Linked DNA regions of Homo sapiens: region 1 is linked to region 2. The links come from fine-mapping of genetic effects on gene expression. A gene starts in region 2. The other region holds a variant in brackets. All regions are shown on one strand. Distances are from middle to middle. Region 1 overlaps NPRL3 (NPR3 like, GATOR1 complex subunit). Region 2 holds the start of POLR3K (RNA polymerase III subunit K).

Region 1 (8,000 bases), 45 kb before region 2:
CCAGGGGTCTGGACGGGCAGGGGCCTGAGTTAGAGTGCCTCTAGTGCACTGAGTCCCCAGGACAGGGTACGGCTTCTCTCAAGCCCTGGCAGTCTGGTTGGACTACAGATTCCAGGGCTAGCCAGAAATATGTTTCTCTTTTTCTTTCTTCTTCTTCTTCCTTTTTTTTTTTTTTTTTTTTGAGACAGAGTCTTGCCTTGTTGCCCAGGCTGGAGTGCAGTGGCGTGATGTTAGCTCACTGCAACCTCCACCTCCTGGGTTCAAGTGATTCTCCTGCCTCAGCCTCCCGAGTAGCTGGGACTACAGGCGCCCGCCACCACACCTGGCTAATTTTTGTATTTTTAGTAGAGACGGGGTTTCACCGTGTTATTAGCCAGGCTGGTCTCGAACTGCTGACCTCGTGATCCGCCCACCTTGGCCTCCCAAAGTGCTGGGATTACAGGCATGAGCCACCGTGCCCGGCCCCCATATTTTCTTTTCTTAAACATAATGTGATCTTAAGAGATGCTCTCCTGCCCGGGTCTCCACCTGCAGTTTCCCCTAAGCAGCAGGGGAATCAGCACCATTGAGCAGGGTGTTTTCTGATCTGTGTGCATGGTTAGAAAGTTTATGTGAACGGGTAACAGCGCCCACTCTCTGCAGCCTGTGCACGTCGGGCGTAGTTCGGCTTCACATCAACAGCTGGCTGGAGGTGAGCTTCTGCCTGCCCCACAAGATCCACTATGCGGCCTCCAGTCTGATCCCCCCAGAGGCCATCGAACGGAGCCTGAAAGCCATCCGGTAAGTGCCCAGCCCCACGTGCTCACTCCCTGCCAGGGCCCTTCCCTTTAGCTTCTGCCTGAGATTTTACCACTTACTTTGTTCCAAAATTTCTCTTTTTCTTCTTCCCACTGCGGAAGCTTGCAGGTGGGGCTCTGCCGTTTATAGAAGTTAAAACACATAATTTTGTATCCAGTTGTGTCCAGAAATGACCAATCCCAGGTTTCTCCTGGGCCCTTCTGGCACCACCTTAGGCTTGGGCAGGGCAGCCTGGATGTGGGGCTGAGTGTCCTTGGGGAGGCCGGAGGGCTGGAGGGACTTCATCTTAATGGTGTTGCCCTACCCCAGTCTTTTGCATTTCAGTCAGCACTCATGGGATCTCAGTTATTTTCTTTTTCTTTTTTTTTTCTTTTTCTTTTTTTTTTTTTTTTTTGCGGGGGTGTGTGTGTGTGTGAGAGAGAGACAGAGTTTTGATCTTATCGCCCAGGCTGGATTTCAGTAGTGCGATCCCGGCTCACCACTACGTCCACCTCCCAAGTTCAAGTGATTCTCCTGCCTCAGGCTCCCGAGTAGTTGGGATTACAGGCGCCCACTGCCATGCCTGGCTAATTTTTTTGGTACTTTTAGTAGAGACAGGGTTTCACCATGTTGGCCAGACTGGTCTCGAACTCCTGACCTCAGGTGATCCACTCATCGCTCATCTCAGCCTCCCAAAATATACTTTCTTAATTTAATTGACTTTTTTTTTTTTTTTTTTGAGATGTAGTCTTGCTCGGGGCTCAAGTGCAGTGGCACAGTCTCCACTCAGTGAAGCCTCTGTCTCCCGGGTTCAAGCGATTCTCCTGCCTCAGCCCCCTGAGTAGCTGGGATTATGGGTGCACACCACTACACCTGGCTAATTTTTGTATTTTTAGTAGAGATGGGGTTTCACCATGTTGGCCAGGCTCGTCTTGAACTCCTGACCTCGTGATCCACCCGCCTCGGCCTGCCAAAGTGCTGGGTTACAGGTGTTAGCCACCATGCCCTGGCAATTTAATTGATTTTCTGCAAGGAAAGAACTGAGCCCAGTCTTCTGGCACCACCTGTTCCCAAGTCCCCCAATACCTTGAACATTTTTTAATTATAAAAATATATCTGGGCACATTGCTGAAAATTTGGAAATGACAGAAAGCAAAGCGCTGCCTAGTTCCACCCTCCCCAGTCCGTGCTCTTTGCTTTCAATCCTAGCTAAGCATATTTTAATGTACTTTGGTCCCTAGTCTGTGAGGAGGATTTTGCTTTTCCCATATTTGGGACAATTTCCTTAGGAAAGATTCATTCATGTCTTCAATCAACAGATGTTTGCTGGGCGTCTCTGAGGTGGGATACAGAGTCCAGTCTTCGAGCCTTCCCCACTTTTGTCGTGTTTTTTTCCGAGGGTGACATAATCCTTGCAGGTTTTGTTTTTGTTGTTTTTGAGACAGAGTCTCACTCTGTCGCCAGGCTGGAGTGCAATGGCGCAATCTCGGCTCACTGCAAGCTCCGCCTCCCAGGCTCAAGTGATTCTCCTGCCTCAGCCTGCCGAGTAGCTGGGACCCCAGGTGGGTGCAACCACACCCGGATAATTTTTTTATTTTTAGTAGAGATGGGGTTTCACCATGTTGGCCAGGCTGGCCTCGAACTCCTGACCTCACGTGACCTGCCTGCCTTGGCCTCCCAGAGTGCCGGGATTATAGGCATGAGCCAGTCCTTGGCAGATTTTGTGAAGGCCTCCAAACAGACCACTGCCCTTTTCTCAAATCCCGCTCTTGGCCCTTCTCTCCGCAGTTAAGGGCCAGGAGGCTCCAGCTGCCTGTTTGTGTCCCAGGTGCATACCTGATGCACACCCGGTGCAGGACCTCGTGCAGGACCTGGTGCATACCTGGTGCAGGGTTCCCTGCACTTCGTATGTTCCGTGTGTTTGAGTCCCAGGTGCATACCTGGTGCATACCCGGTGCATACCTGGTGCAGGACCTGGTGCATACCCGGTGCATACCTGGTGCAGGACCTGGTGCATACCCGGTGCAGGGTTCCTGCACTTCGTGTGTTCCGTGACAGGTGATTGTTTTGCAGCCCCTACCATGCCCTGCTGCTGCTCAGTGATGAGAAGTCCTTGCTGGGTGAGCTTCCTATTGACTGCTCCCCTGCCCTAGTGCGGGTGATCAAGACCACATCTGCTGTGAAGAACCTGCAGCAGCTAGCCCAAGATGCGGACCTGGCCTTGCTGCAGGTATAGCTCTGGAGGCCCAGATGGGTGGCATGTGGCGGTGCTGGGGCATCAGGAAAGGCAGGCCGCCTGCCACAGTACATCCACAGGGGCTGTGTCCAGCTGAGAGCCGCGGCACAGCCCACCATGGGGTGGGGCCAGTCCCTGGGATGGCTGGAGGTTTTGGCATCTGAGTCAGACCTGGGTTCAGGGCTGGCTTTGTGAGTGAGCCACGGGACTGACTTGTTCTTCTGTCTCAGAGAGGTAAGGCGAGTCTGTGAGAGAAAGGACTGGGGTGCTTGCAGTCCTGGAGGTTGAGGCACCAGAGCTAGGGGGTGGGCAGGGCAGCAGCGGGCAGGGCCATGGGGGTCTCACAGTGGTGCATGAACAACATACGGGAACTAAGGGCAGGAAG[C/G]TTGGATGCGGGGCCCTCCCATGTGCAGAACAGAGACCTAACCTGGTGGCCTTACGCCCCTGTGTGTGCACATGTGTTGGCCTGTGCACTCTGTACAAGATGCCACGTCCTTGCTGAGCCACATGCTTATGGGCCTGTCCATGCAGAGGGCTGCCCTTTCTGATTAGATGGAGGGCCCCTCAGCCTCGTCTGCGGATCTGGTTGGAGTGTGGGAGGAAAAGCGCAGGCAAGGCTGGGCACGGTGGCTCATGCCTGTCATCCTAGCCCAGGACTTTGAGACCAGCCTGAGCAACATGGCAAAACCCCGTCTCTACAAAAAATACAAAAAAAAAAAAAAAAAAAATAGCTGGGTGTGGTGGCGTGCACCTGTAGTCCCAGCTACTTGGGGGTATGAGGTGTGAGGATCAATTGAGCCTGGGAGGCAGAGGTTGCAGTTAGCTGAGATTGTGCCACTGTACTCCAGCCTGGGCGACTCTGTTTCCAAAAAAAAAAAAAGCACGGGGAGAAATCAGAAGCAGGGGCTGCTGATGGGGTGGCCAACAGGCCATGGGATCAGCTGTGGCTGCTAGTCATGTGGGCGTGGCCCAGAGCCACGGGACCATTGAAATACTGCCTGAGGGTGGGAGCAGGTGGTGCCTGTGGGTGGCGCCCTCGTCTGGTGGCGGTGTGCACAGCATGGCCACCAGGGGGCAGCAGAGGCTGCCGAGGAACACAGGCGTGAGGTGGGCCCGCCTGGGTCCCTCTGGCTGAGCTTCCATGCTCTTTTGGCCTGTGAAACAGGTCTCTGCTTAGCACGTTAGGGGAACTTGTCCAACAAGGCCTGACTCTCAGGCCACTTTTCCCCGAAAGCAGCCTTTTTGGATTCTGTCTTTGAGAGTAAGTCTCCCGCCTCTGTATCTCAGGACCCTTTATCTATCCTCTGTGAGAGCACTTACCAAATTGTGCCCTTGTATTTCTTTTTTCTTTTCTGAGACAGGTTCTTGCTCTGTCTCCCAGGCTGGCATGTGGTGGTGCCATCATGATCCACCCAGGCTCAAGCATCCTCCCAAGTAGCTGGGACTACAGGTGTGCGCCTGGCTAATATTTTTTTTTTTTTTTTTTTTTTGGTAGAGACGGGGTTTCCCTATGTTGCCCTGGCTGGCCTCATACTCCTGGGCTCAAGTGATCATCGCACCTTGGCCTCCTAAAGGGCTGGTATTACAGGCATGAGCCACCATGCCCAGCTGTGCCTTTGGACTTCATGGGCTGGACAGGACTCAGTAAACACCATGTCCTGCCCACCTTCATAGCATTCAGGAGACAGAGAATTTTAAAAGAACTCACCACTCCATACAACCCTGCAGAGTGAGGGAGGCAGTGACCCTCCGTGTCCTGATGAGCACCGACCACATGGTAAATGCCTGTGGCTGTTCACTGGTCCTGTGTTGAGCTTTTGAAAGGAGCTGGGCCTGGCTTTCCTGAGGCTGTCTGGCAGGAGTTTGTGCTGGACACTGTGCCTCTCATCCTTGCTGTCAGAGTCTCCTTGGACAAAGCTTTGATGCCCTCTTCTGAGGTTGTCTGGCAGGAGTTTGTGTGGACAGTGTGCCTCTCACCCTTGCTCTCAGAGTCTCCTTGGACAAAGCTTTGGTCTCCTTTTGATGTCCCCTTCACTTCCCTGCCGTGGCCTTGACTGGGGAGAGGGAAGGCTGTTTGTCATTGTTTTCTTCTGTCTGTACCCCTTCCCTGCTGTCCCTGCTGCAGGTCAGCAGGGCGTTGCTGCTGGTGTGGCGGTGCGGAAGCCCCTGGGGCCCAGCCCTGGTGGGTCACTCTGTTTCCGGAGATAGCCCCCTGGGGAGCACCTGCCTCAGGTGTGAATGTCACCAGATAGTTTAAAGTCCCTCATGTGGCTGGGTGCAGTGGCTCATGCCTGTAATCCCAGCACTTTGGGAGGATGAGGCAGGAGGATTGCCTAAGCCCAGGAGGTCACGACCAGCCTAGGCAACATAGGAAGACCCTGTCTTTACAGAAAATTAAATAATTAGCTGGGCATGGTGGTGTGTGCCCATGGTCCCAGCTACTCAGGAGGCTGAGGTGGGAGGATCACTTGAGCCCTGGTGTTCGAGGCTGCAGTGAATTGTGATTTTACACACTGCAGTCTGGGCAACAGAGCAAGACCCAGTCTCAAAAAATAAAATAAAATAAAATTCTTCATGTTTATATCAATCCAGAGAGAATCTACAAGTAAATTTTGGGTGTGTCATGATAAAATTAGTATGTTACAAGACTTCAAACACTACACAAATTATAGACACAGAAAGTTCCCACAGTCCCATATCCCACAGGTAACCTAGATCCCTCCAGGTTTTTTATCTGTATATATACATTTTATTGTGTGTGTGTGTGTGTGTGTGTGTGTGTGTGTGTATATATATATATATATATATATATACACACACAAACATTTTATTTTGTATTATGAAAATTAGGATCGTGCTGTATATTCGTTGTGATTGGCTGAATAATGGCCCCCACAGATATACACATCCTAATCCCCAAAATCTATGAATGTGAACTCATGTGGGACTTTGGAGATGTTACTAAGTAGAAGATCTTGAGATGGGAAGATCATCCTGTTGAGCTCTAAATGTAATCTCTAAGGCCCTTATCAGAGGGAGGCAGAGGAAGATCTGATAAAAAGAGGCAGCGATGTGGCCACAGAGACAGAGTGGAGTGACGTGACCGCAAGCCAAGAGACACTGGCCGTTGAAGAGGCAGGACGAATTCTCTTCTGGAGCTTCCAGAGGGAGCCTGGTCCTGCTGGCACCTTATGCTTGCCCTTAAGTACTGATTTTGGATTTTCAATTTCCAGAATGGACAGCATCTTGGAGAGGCTGCTGCAGGGAGAGGCAGGAGGTGGAGACCACTATGCTGAGCAGAGCTGGGGGAAAGTGGGGGTGTCTTTTTGAGAGAGACATGCGAGTGGCACGTGGGGTGAGGGAACAGGGCGGTGATGGAGCTGAAACCTGCCATGTCGGGGTTGGCGGAGCCATTGGGGGCACTACTCGCACAATCTTGGCTCACTGCAACCCCCACCTCCCAGGTGCAAGCAATCCTCCTGTCTCAGCCTCCAAGTAGCTGGGACTACAGGCATGTGCCGCAGTGCCTGGCTAATTAAATAAAAATTTTTGGCAGAGATGAGGGTCTCACTATATTGCCCAGGTTGGTCTCGAACTCCGAGGTTCAGGCGATCCTCCTGCCTTGCCCTCCCAAAATGCTGGGACTACAGGCATGAGCCACTCACTCAGTCTGGAGGCCCTGTTTTCTGAGCTGAGGTATAAGTGTCCTCAGCAGCAGGGCAGCACGGTGTCCAGGCAGGGGTGACTCACCTCCACAGAGGCCTACCCGCCAAGAGGGTGGAGTGGTGTCCTGGGCTGATGCAGAGGCAGAAGTGCGAGAGCTTAGGATTTCACACACCTTTTCGTGAAGTGCTGGGGTGCTGTGCTCTCAGACCTCAGGCCTGAGCTTTCCTCTGGAAGGGGTTTGGGTTGTGTTTGTGTTTCCTGATGTTCAAGGGTCCACAAGAGCAAAGCTGGGAGGGGGGTCTCTGTGGGAGTCGGGGCACATGGGGCAGACCTGGGGCCTTTGGGTATGTAGGGGTGGCATGCTGAGTGACTCCACACCCATCATCGGGCAAGGCCATGCTGGAGTTTTAGGGGGTATAAGAGGGCTGTGCCCCTGCCAGGACATCCAGCTAAGCCCCCTGCCCAGCTGGGCCAGCACTGTGTTCCCAGCACCCCAGACATTCCCATGCTTGTGGCCTGAGACCACCATTCTTCAGTGGGAGTCAAGACAGCATAGGATGGGAAAACAGTGCCACCAAACAGCACAGGGAGCAGTGACAAAAAGGCCATTGTGGCCGGGTGCGGTGGCTCATGCCTGTAATCCCAGCACTTTGGAAGGCCAAGGTGGGTGGATCACGAGGTCAGATCGAGACCATCCTGGCCAACATGGTGAAACCCTGTCTCTACTAAAAATACAAAAATTAGCTGGGCGTGGTGGCATGTGCCTGTAATCCCAGCTACTCAGGAGGCTGAGGCAGGAGAATCGCTTGAACCTGGGAGGCAAGAGGTTGCAGTGAGCTGAGATTGTGCCACTGCACTCCAGCCTGGGCGACAGAGCAAGACTGTCTCCAAAAAAAAAAAAAAAAAAACCATTGCTCACAGAAAGTGCTGTGTGCTGGCTGTGCCCCACATCCTAGTGAGAGGTTGCGAAGGTGCTATTCCACGTTAGGGAGGAAGTCTCGGGCCATAGCCACCAGGTGTGTTCTGCATGAGGCTGGGGCCAGCTTCTCCAGGCTGGTAGGCCATGGCCACCCAGGCTGAGAGCTGCTGACAGCTCCCGGTGGGCCAGCCTCAGGCATGGTCCTTGCAGCTTCCCTTTTGCCTGCAGGTTTTCCAGCTTGCAGCTCATCTGGTGTACTGGGGCAAGGCCATCATCATCTACCCGCTGTGTGAGAACAACGTCTACATGCTGTCTCCCAATGCCAGCGTATGTCTGTGAGTGCTGCTGGCTGCCAGAGCCTGGAGCCCCGAGTGGGAAGGGGTGAGGCTGGCAGGGCCCTCC
Region 2 (11,298 bases):
CTTCTGTTGAACCCCTCGTACTGCCGGGCATTTATTATACTACTTCCTGTCATAACCTTCTAACTTGTTTCTTGACGACCACCTCATGTGGCCAATAAATGGACTGGGAGCGTTTTAGCTGCCATTAACTTGACCAGGGCTTCCCTATCCTTCTTTGTTTCTGGCTGGAAGCTGTGGAGGGAGGTCCTGCAGGCCCCTTGTGGCTGACTCACCCGGGCAGGGAACTGAGTGTCAGATACAGTCACGGGCTCTTTCACTTCCCAGTGAAATCCTTCAGCCAGGCACGTGCACCTTGCTCTTTCTTAGAGTGGCTGGTAGCCGACGCTGGGACAGGGACCTAGGGATGTACTGTCATACCCTCCCCACATGCTGGGAAGCACCCCGCCCCCACCCTTAGCAGCTCCAATTTCCACCCCACACTCCCTCCCTGTCCACCGAACCTGCTGCAGGGAACCCTAAAGGCTGAGGCTGGAGGGCCCACACACAGCTGTGCTATGCTTGCTGCCACTGTGAGCTCCAGGATGCAAACCCTAAAGCCGCTCTGCTTTTATTTCCTCCTTGCTGTGGAGATCATGGTAACACAGTTGTGTGGTTTGGGGAGTGGTGTGGCCTCAAGGCTTTGGTGGTGTGGCGCCATCTTGGACTATAGGACTCGCCTGTACCAATTCTCTCCCCTTAACTCACCTCTGTGATGGGGCAATCTCAGTCTTTGCTACCCAGGTTACTGTGGCTTTCTACTTTTCAAACTAAGAAGCAAACAGGTTTATTTTATACAGTGGGCCAGGCCGTGGGTCTGCCATGTGACTAGGGCATTTGGACCTAGGGAGAGGTCAGTCTCAGGCCAAGTACATGAAAGGAGGGAGCACTGGCTCACCCTGTCCTAGTCCTGAGGGCCCCCAGGTTTATGCTGACAGTTACTGTTGGGCATGCCTGGGGTGAGGCCACCACAACGTCCTTTCTGTGAAAGAGGCACGATGATTCGAGGACCCATTCCTGCTGGGAAAAAGCTCAGCCACCAGTGATGAAGAGGGTTGTCCTGTCTGGAGGCTCACTTTTGCCTCAGCTTTTTGATGAAGGAAACCTCGTCTCGATTCCGGATGCCGTAGCTGAAAAAGAAGGAAAGGCATAAAGCACCTGCCCTACAGAAGGACATATCTGTGACTCCCCTCCTGAGGCTGTGGAGGACCACGAAGAAACAACAGAGGGGAGGCGTGTGGCTTCTGGGAAGGCCAGGAAGTGCAGTGGCCATCCTCTCACAGACCCAGAAGCACTCCGACTCACAAGTCCCCGGGGCAGGGAACTGAGTGTCAGATAGAGTCACAGCCTTTCGCCTCCATGCCCACTCTGATTTCCTCCCTCCTGGCACTGTGTAGCCCTAAGCTGCCACTGGTGGGAAGCAGCAAGGCCCCTCCAGCTGCCCTCTGCCTGCCATTCTCCTAGTGGGGAGGGCCCCAAGGAAGCTCCTTGGAGGAGGGTGTTATCTCCGGAGAGGGAGCCGCAGCCCTCTGGCAGAGCATGGGGGACTAAGGGGCAACAGAACAGCGGTGCCCTACGGCTCAGGACGTGGCCGGCACTTACTCTCGGAGCTTCTTTCTGTCTTCCGTGAGTTTCTCTCCTGCAGAGGTCAGATGGTACGTCCTCCACACGTAGGACCTGCAAGAGGGGAATGCAGGTAAACCACGTGCCCTGAGCAGGGTGAGCTGAGTGGCTCTGCATGACGTGGGCTTGAGGCATGCAGTCCTATGGGACCTGGGGCAGCTGTCCTCCCTACCTGGGCTGTTCTGTACAATGTGCAGATTGGGTCTGAGGCAGCTACAAGGAGGCTCTGTTCTCAGAGGGCTGTCTGGGGCGGCTTGGCCAAACAAACCTTGCTAATGCAACAGGCGACAGTGTTGAGACTCAGTGAACAGGATAGTTGATCCAATAGGAGAGTGAGGGCTGACAGCACCCAGGTGAGAAGGGGATGGGAGCCCCTACAGGTGTACCATCCAAAACTAGGGAGGCCACTTCCAGACACACTGGAAATTCCCGACAGTGTCCCCAAGTGAAGATACCCAGCAGCTCGGATGGGGTGATGCCGATGGAAGAGCAGAATGTTGGGGATGGCCGAGGCAGGAGTCCCAGGCACAGAACGACCCGCACTGTCTGTGACAGGGAGCTCATCACTCTTGTGACAGGGAGCTCATCACTTCAGTGGTGCTGTACTCATGCAGAGCTGAGAGCTGTTTCCAGGTGGTGCCTGGTGACAGTGCCAAGAAGGGCACTAGCCCCACGAAGGGCTATAATGAAGGGAATGTTGTTCCACTTACCAGCTGATGTGCTGAATGCCCCCTTCACGCTCCTGCTTGAGCTGCACGTATCTCTGGATGGCCTTCTTCAGGTCCAGGACTGTGGCACTCTGCACTACAACCACGGCTGCAACCACGGACACAGATGGGAGAAGATCCATGGTGAGAACCCAAAGCCACAGCCTCCGATGGCAGGAAAGGAACCAACACCTCTGTGCACAGGGCAGGTTTGTGGTTGCCCCAGTACCCCTGGGCATGGCCTGTGAGTTTCTGAGCAGGCTGACCAGCACTGTTAGGTCTTCCTGCTGTGAAAGCCTGGACCACATAACCTGAAGGGAGGAGGGTAGCACTTACGCATTACTTCTCCATCCATCTTGCACACTCGGACCGTCATTGCCTGGCCGTATTCTAGGGCTATTTGGGAGTTGACTTCTTCCAGAGTAACCTACAAAAGACCAAGGGCAGAAGTGGGAACCCTGGCTCTCTTTACCACCTTGAGCAACAACAAAGAACAAGCCGATAGTGGCCAAAAAGTGGTGCTCCATTTTACGAAGGGCAAGGAAGGGTGGTTGCCTGTACGTTATGGTTTCCCAATTCATCAGAGCCCCAATCTCATGTTCCACTCACATTTTAATGTCCATAGTGGACAGAGTCTCTGGGGGAAAGAGGTGCTAAGAAACAGGCAAGAGAATAAACTCACATGAGGACCTGCCCCCAGGGGTGGGTAGAGGCCTGTCAGTTCACGCTGAGTATATCCCTGATCATCAGGACCCAGGCCAGGCTTCGGGACTGAGTAAGGCAGGTGTGCAAAATTTACCGGGGCAGCAAAACACGGTAATAACAATAAATATTTTAATACAACATTTAAGAAATACAAGGCAATTAAAATATCCATGATGAGCAAAATATAAAACATTTAAAATTGGCCGGGCGCGGTGGCTCACGCCTGTAATCCCAGCACTTTGGGAGGCCGAGGCGGGCGGATCATGAGGTCAGGAGATCAAGACCATCCTGGCCCAACATGGTGAAGCCCCGTCTCTACTAAAAATACAAAAAATTAGCCGGGCGTGGTGGCGCGTGCCTGTAGTGAACCCGGGAGGGGGAGGTTGCAGTGAGTCGAGATGGCACCACTACACTCCAGCCTGGCAACGGACCAAGACTCAGTCTCAAATAAATAAATAAATAAATAAAAAGACAGTATCGTCCCAAAGCATGATACTGACGCTTTGACACATGATTGACGCTTGAGGCAAATGGAACAATCAGTACTACTAATCTTGCTCTTATTTAAAACTAAATTTTTCTTTTACCGTAGGCTCTTTTTTTGCCTCAACTTTGACTTTTAAAGGTATTACAGGCCAGGCGGGTGGCTCACACCTAAATCCCAGCATTTTGGGAGGCCGAGGCAGGAGGATCGCCTGAGCCCAGGAGTTTCAGATCAGCCTGGGCAACATAGTGAGACTCCCTCTGTACAAAATATTTAAAAATTAGCCGGGTGTGGTAGCGCGCACCTGTGGTCCCAATTACTCGGGAGGCTGAGGTGGGAGGACGCCGCTGCACTCCAGCCCGGGCAACGCAGCAAGACCCTGTCCCCCGAGCCCCCTAAATACAATTACATTAAAATGTCATTTGATGTCACTCACTAATGAGGTTTTTGGTTCCTCTTTAAGCTTCGCGCCCCAGGCGAGTGCGCCCGGTCAAGGTTAAAACCCTCGTTTACGCCCAGAGGCGCCTTCCTCAGCCTTGGGCCGCAGTCTCCCACCAGCACCTTCGGAGGCTGCCGGCGCCCGGATGCCCGGACCCCGGGGAACGACTCCCGCGCCCCCAGCCCCCGCCCGCACACACCTGGATCGGCAGATCGCAGAGCAGCGGGTCCTGCACCACCATAGCCAGACCCTCCTGGAACACGTCCATGGCCTCGGAGTGCGGCAGCGCCTCTTCTTCGTCCTCATCTTCCTCTTGCGCCTCGGGCCCACCCGCGGCCTCCGTCTCCTCCAGGGCCGCCCCTCTCAGCCGGGCTCTGCCCGCACTGCCAGCCCGCACTAGGGAGGCCAAGCGCGCACGCGCAGGAACTGCGGCCCGCCCCAGCGAGGCCGCCCAGCCACTGGCGCGCCGGGGGGGGTGGGGCGGCTGCAGTGACCAATGACAAGTGCGAGACAGCCTGCAGCAGGGCCGGGAGCGCAGAATCGCCCTGTCTATTGGTTGGTTGGTGTGGCGGGAAGGCTGCCAGGACCAATGTGAGCTCGAGGCGGGCGGCGCATCGGCGCTGAGCGGCAGTGGGAGCTGCCGGGAGTTGGAGCCTGCGGAGTTCGAGACCATGCTGCTGTTCTGCCCCGGCTGCGGGAACGGGCTGATCGTGGAGGAGGGACAACGCTGCCACCGCTTCGCCTGCAACACGTGCCCCTACGTGCACAACATCACCCGCAAGGTGGGACCCGAAGGCCGGCGCTGGGCGCGGGCGACTCTCGCAGGCCTTCCGCGTCCTCCGACTGCTGCTCCATCGCCGCCAGCCCCGGCGTCTGCCTCTGTCCGCTCTTTCTCGCGCCCCTTTCTGGTCTGCAGCAGATCTGTGGGCTCTACTTTCCAATACACTCAGAAAGCCCCACCGTTTCCCACCGCCTTGGGTTCCTGCTCCCACGCTCGCGCCCTTCTCTGCGTTCACAGCGGCGGCCACGGTGATTTCCTTAAAGCTGAGGCACGCAGGTCCGTGCTGTGCGCAGAAACCTTCGGCTCTTCTCCAGCTCACGCAGACGAAAAGCCGGAGTTCTCCCAGGGCCTACCAGGTTCCGACACTGACTCCCTCCCCTGCGTGCGTCTCCGATTTCAAGTCCTAATGCCCTTCCTGTTGCCCTTTGCCGCATCAACACCGCCTCCTGGACGATCTCTCATCGTGCTCATGGTGCTAGCAGGGCCTTTGCACTTGCTGTTGCTCAGTTCACTCTTCCCCTAGATCGCCACCTTACTCATTGGTCTTGTCTTTACCGTATTTTAAATTTCAGCCCCTCCTTCCAATTTATTCTCCTTCCCTTTGTAATTGTTTCCATAGGGCTTATTACCTTCTAATATATTATGTAATGTATTGTGTGCTTTCTTTATTTTTTTTTATTGTTTTTTTTTTTTTTTTTTTTTTTTTTTTTTGAGACGGAGTCCCGCTCTGTCGCCCAGGCTGGAGTGCAGTGGCGCGATCTCGGCTCACTGCAAGCTCTGCCTCCCGGGTTCACGCCACTCTCCTGCCTCAGCCTCCCAATTAGCTGGGACTACAGGCGTCCGCCACCACCCCTGGCTGATTTTTTTGTATTTTTAGTAGAGATGGGGTTTCACCGTGTGTTAGCCAGGACGGTCTCCTGACCTCGTGATCTGCCCGCCTCGGCCTCCCAAAGTGCTGGGATTACAGGCGTGAGCCACCGCGCCCGACCTTTTTTTTTTTTTTTTTTTTTTTTTTTTTTTTTTTTTTTTTGAGACAGAGTCTCGCTCTGTTTCCCAGGCTGGAGTGCAATGGCGTAATCTCGGCTCACTGCAACCTCTGCCTCCCGGGTTCAAGCAATTCTTCTGCCTCGGCTTCCCGAGTAGCTGGAATTACAGGCGCCTGCCACCATCCCCGGCTAATTTTTGTATTTTTAGTAAAGACGGGGTTTCACCGCGCTGGCCAGGCTGGTCTCGAACTCCCAACCTCAGGTGATCCGCTTGCCTTGGCCTCCCAAAGTGCTGGGATTATAGGCGTGAGCCACCACGCCTGGCCAGAATACCTTTACTTTTTAGCAGTTAGAATATGTTGGTGCTACGTCAGTCTTAATGTTTGCATGCTACTCCAGTTTGTACTGTGTTGTGGGAGTTTGGAGTTTGAAACTACGGGAAGAGTGAACTCTTTGTTTTTTTTTTTTTTTGAGATGGAGTCTTGCTCCGTAGCCCAGGCTGGAGTGCAGTGGTGTGATCTCGGCTCACTGCAAGCTCCGCCTCCCAGGTTCACACCATTCTCCTGCCTCAGCCTCCTGAGTAGCTGGGACTACAGGCGCCCGCCAACACGCCGGGCTAATTTTTTGTATTTTTAGTAGAGACAGGGTTTCACCGTGTTAGCCAGGATGGTCTCGATCTCTTGACCTCGTGATCCGCCCGTCTTGGCCTCCCAAAGTGCTGGGATTACAGGTGTCAGCCACCACGCCCAGCCGAGTGAACTCTTATGTAATCCTGAAATTTAAGGTTTGGCAGCCCAGGTTTGCGCTATTCAGTTACTTGGAGTCTGAAGTGTTGTTTTTGTTAGGTAACAAATCGGAAGTACCCAAAACTGAAAGAAGTGGATGATGTGCTTGGTGGAGCAGCTGCCTGGGAGAATGTTGACTCTACTGCAGGTAAGAGGGAAAACTGTTTCTGTTGCTAAACTGTGGATAATTATGAGGCTGTTGATGCCACTGCTTGGCAGAGTCTATGATGTCATATAAATGATGTAGGTTTCTAAAAATAGAAAATGGTTCTTGAATAATTTATTTGTATTTGTTACTGTTTAATAATCTGTCAGACAAGCAATATTTGTGCCAGCCTTGGAGTCATACAGGCCCGGGTCAGATTCTCAGGGCAACCTTGTATTGTTGTAGGACCTTCCTTGGGTCTCTTGACTTCTCTGGGGCTAATCCATATTCGTAGACCGCGAGAGCATAAAGTGAATTATACCGTGCTTGGTATATAAGAGGCACTCAACAGGTGATAGCTTTGATAATGGCAATGATGAGTAGATTAATAAAAATAAGAGTCTAAGGAAAAAAGTATGTTCTTTCTGTTTGATATGGTTTGGCTGTGTCTCCACCCTAATCTCATCTTGAATTATAGTTTCCGTAATCCCCAGGTGTCCTGGGAGGGGCCCAGTGGGAGGTAATTGAATCATGGGAGCGGTTTCCCCCCATGCTGTTCTCCTGATAGTGAGTGAGTTCTCACAAGATCAGATCGTTTTATAAGCGTTTGCGTTTCCCCTGCTCGCACTCATTCTGTCTCCTGCTGCTCTGTGAAGAGGTTCCTTTCGCCATGATTGTAGGTTTCCTGAGGCATCCCCAGCCACGCAGAACTGTGAGTAAATTAGACCTCTTTTCTTGGCTGGGTGTCGTGGCTCACGCCTGTAAATCCCAGCAGTTTGGGAGGCCAAGGTAGGCAGATCACTTGAGGTCAGGAGTTCCAGACCAGCCTGGCCCGCATGGTGAAACCCTGTCTCTATTAAAGATAAAATAATTAGCCGGGTGTGGTGGCGCTCGCCTGTAGACCCAACTGCTCAGGAGGCTGAGGTACGAGAATTGCTTGAACCCAGGAGGCAGAGGTTGCAGTGAGCCGAGATCACACTACTGCACTCTAGCCTCGGTGACAAGAGTGAGACTCTGTCTCAAAACAAACAAAACCCCTTTTGTCTATATAAATTACCCAGTCTCAGGTATTCATAGCAGTGTGAGAACGGACTAATACACGCTTCTAATATAGATTTTTAGAAGTTAATACCAGTGAGCATTAAACTGCAGATTGGGTAAAATACATGTTTATTGCATGTCTGGTAGACATAGATGTGGCCAGGAGAGGAAAGGGGAAGACGTAAATGTAAGTTATATTGAGAGGTGAGAGAGATAACTGATGGTTAGTACTGTGGTTTTCCCCCTATAAAAGAACATATAGGCTGGGTGTGGTGGCTCACGCCTGCAATCTCAGCACTTTGGGAGGCCGAGGCGGGCGGATCACCTGAGGTCAGGAGTTCGAGACCAGCCTGGCTAACACGGTGAAACCCCATTTCTGCTAAAAATACAAAAAATTAGCCAGGCGTGGTGGCAGCACCTGTAATCCCAGCTACTCGGGAGGCTGAGACAGGAGAATCGCTTGAACCCGGGAAGTGGAGGTTGCAGTGAGCCAAGATTGCATCATTGCACTCCAGCCTGGGCAACAAGAACGAAACTCTGTCAAAAAAAAGAACATACAAATCTGCTATGTGAAAAAGTTAGCAGCTGGCACGGTGGCTCACACCTATAATCCCAGCATTTTGGGAGGCCAATGTGGGCGGATCACGAGGTCAAGACATCGAGACCATCCTGGCCAACATGGTGAAACCCCGTCTCCACTAAAAATACAAAAAGTAGCTGAGCGTGGTGGTGCCTGCCTGTAATCCCAGCTACTTGGGAGGCTGAGACAGGAGAATCGCTTGAACCTGTGAGGCGGAGGTTGTAGTGAGCTGAGATCGTGCTATTGCACTCTAGCCCAGGCAACAGGAGCAAAACTCCGTCTCAAAAAAAAAAAAAAAACAAATTAGCCAGGCTCAGTGGCGCGTGCCTGTAGTCCTAGCTACTCAGGAGGCTGAGGCAGGAGAATTGCTTGAACCAGGAGGCGGAGGTTGCAGTGAGCCGAGACCATGCCACTCCAGCCTGAGTGAGACTGTCTAAAAAAAAAAAATCTTTTTACCTAATGTCAGAAATAGAGTGTTTGAAGCCATTTCTGTCAGGTGTAGGATAAGTTTCTCAAAGTGAAATCGCTTTGAAGAGTGCAATGGTGTGATCTCGGCTCACTGCAACCTCCACTTCCCAGGTTCAAGTGATTCTCCTTCCTCGGCCTCATGAGTAGCTGGGATTACAGGCATGCGCCACCACGCCCAGCTAATTTTGTATTTTTAGTAGAGATGGGGTTTCTCCATGTTGATAAGGCTGGTCACGAACTCCCGACCTCAGGTGATCTGTTGGCCTCAGCCTCCCAAAGTGCTGGGATTACAGGCCTGAGCCACTGTGCCTGGCTTTTTTTTTGAGATGGAGTCTCTTTTGCCCAGGCTGGAGTGTAGTGGCACGATCTCTGCTCACTGCAAACCTATGCTGCCCGGGTTCAAGCGATTCTCCTGCCTCAGCCTCCCTAGTAGCTGGGATTACAGGCACCTGCCACCACGCCCGGCTAATTTTTGTAGTTTTGGTAGAGACGGGGTTTCACCATCTTGGCTAGGCTGGTCTTGACCTCCCGACCTCGTGATCCACCTGCCTCAGCCTCCCAAAGTTCTGGGATTACAGGCAAGAGCCACCATACCCGGCCTCTTCTCTTCTTTTCAGCCCACACCAGAATCGCCCTTAATGCTCAATTCTTTTTTTTTTTTGAGATGGAGTCTCACTCTGTTGCCCAAGCTGGAGTGCAGTGGCGCGATCTCGGCTCACTGCAAGCTCCGCCTCCCGGGTTCACGCAATTCTCTTGCCTCAGCCTCCCGAGTAGCTGGGACTGCAGGCACCCGACACCACGCCTGGCTAATTTTTTGTGTTTTTAGTAGAGACGGGGTTTCACCATGTTAGCCAGGATGGTCTCGATCTCCTGACCTCGTGATCCGCCTGCCTTGGCCTCCCAAAGTCCTGGGATTACAGGCGTGAGCCACCGCGCCCGGCCCTTAATGCTCAATTCTTGACAATGCAGGCTTTTCCCAGCATTTACTTCAAAACTCTTCCACCATCTAACCATTACTTAGTCTTAGGCATTTTGTTACAGCAGCACAAAATGGACCAAAACAGTCACCTTCCATGTTACGTTTCCAACCAGCCTTCAGCTGGATTTGAGAAGAACCATGGGACTCAGGGAGGGGAGGGGGAGAGTGTGTGAGTCACAGGTCTCCCAGATTCCCTTAGTGTTACAGCGTGGTGGGAATGACATCACTGTTTGTAGATCTACCCTTGTCAAGGGGGATCAAATGAGCAGGGAGGTTCTTTACCATCTTTAAAGATATTAAGTAGTCTGGGCACGGTGGCTCATGCCTGTAATCCCAGCACTTTGGGAGGTTGAGGTGGGCGGATCATGAGGTCAGGAGTTCGAGACCAGCCTGGCCAACATAGTGAAAACCTGTCTCTACTAAAAATACAAAAAAATTAGCCGGGTGTGGTGGCGGGCAACTGTAATCCCAGCTACTTGGGAGGCTGAGGCAAGGAGAATCACATGAACCCGGGAGGCAGAGGTTGCAGTGAGCTGAGATCGCCCCACTGCACTCCAGCCTGGGTGACTGCGAGATTCCATCTCAAAAAAAAAAAAAAAAGATATTATAGTAATACCTACTTTTTTTTTTTTTTTTTTTTTTTGAGTGCAGTGGCACGATCTTGGCTCACTGCAATCTCTGCCTCCTGGGTTCAAGCGATTCTCCTGCCTCAGCCTCCCAAGTAGCTGGGATTAAAGGCGCCCGCCACCACGCCTGGCTAATTTTGTATTTTTAGTAGAGATGGGGTTTCACCATGTTGGCCAGGATGGTCTCGAACTCCTGACCTCAGGTGATCCGCCCGCCTTGGCCTCCCACATATTAAGTAATACCTACTTTTGACAGCCATGAGTAGCATCTTTTTTTAAATGTGGTCACTTCTTTTTTCTCATTGCCAGAGTCGTGTCCCAAATGCGAACATCCTCGTGCTTACTTCATGCAGCTTCAGACCCGCTCTGCAGATGAGCCGATGACCACCTTCTACAAGTGCTGCAATGCTCAGTGTGGACACCGCTGGAGGGATTAGGGCCAGGATGGCCCAGCTGCCCTAGTGTGTGCTTGCCTTGTCCCTCGGGGTAGATGCTTAGCTGGCAGTATGAGTTGTGTGTCCTGAGGGTCTTTGCTAGTGTGGTGGAAAGATAAACCTTTTGAGGTGAAGAGCCAGGGGGTCAGGAAATATGGCCTATCTGCCAGGCAGGGTGGATGAAGTCATGAATGTCTGGGAGTTTTTCTGTGTGGGGAGGAGACAGAGACCCATAACTAAATATGCTCTGTGTAAAGTCCTATTCTTTCATCTTCCACTTTATTGGCAGTTGACATTCCCTTACTCCCAATCAACACTCTTAAATATTTGTACTGTTTGTAAAACTTAGTACATGTCCCTAAATATTTAACTGTTACTTGTAAACTTGTGTAATTTATTATTTATTTTAATCAAAATTCTGAATATTTCATTTAAATGAAAGTTGGAATATTGCCTTCTCAGTGTTTTAAATAGCTTAAGAGGTAGAAAGCAAACCCCAAATCACAGTGATCCCAGAATAGACTACATACTTACATTTG

The links. PIP is the estimated chance that this variant, and not a neighbour inherited with it, causes the effect. A credible set is the group of variants that fine-mapping cannot tell apart.
Region 1: its variant is the best candidate, but not a certain one, in a credible set for the expression of POLR3K in monocytes (Quach 2016, PIP 0.84).

What each region holds. Positions count from the first base shown.
Region 1 is chr16:93,152-101,151 of GRCh38, reverse strand. It overlaps NPRL3 (NPR3 like, GATOR1 complex subunit), which reads left to right. Exons shown (of 14, transcript NM_001077350.3): 8 at 643-780; 9 at 2,851-3,007; 10 at 7,827-7,933. Among named protein-coding and RNA genes, the nearest start is that of MPG, 19 kb to the right of the region's middle. The variant C/G (reference allele first, on the strand shown) is at 3,399.
Region 2 is chr16:46,894-58,191 of GRCh38, reverse strand. It overlaps POLR3K (RNA polymerase III subunit K), which reads left to right and starts at 4,584. Exons shown (of 3, transcript NM_016310.5): 1 at 4,584-4,716; 2 at 6,547-6,634; 3 at 10,635-11,298. The coding sequence starts at 4,606. The coding sequence ends at 10,762. SNRNP25 (small nuclear ribonucleoprotein U11/U12 subunit 25) reads right to left here and starts at 4,364. Exons shown (of 5, transcript NM_024571.4): 1 at 4,134-4,364; 2 at 2,643-2,733; 3 at 2,310-2,415; 4 at 1,579-1,653; 5 at 523-1,106. The coding sequence starts at 4,175. The coding sequence ends at 1,049. RHBDF1 (rhomboid 5 homolog 1) reads left to right here. Exons shown (of 18, transcript NM_022450.5): 18 at 1-133. RefSeq lists silencers at 4,014-4,113, 4,254-4,573 and enhancers at 4,904-5,063, 4,792-5,318.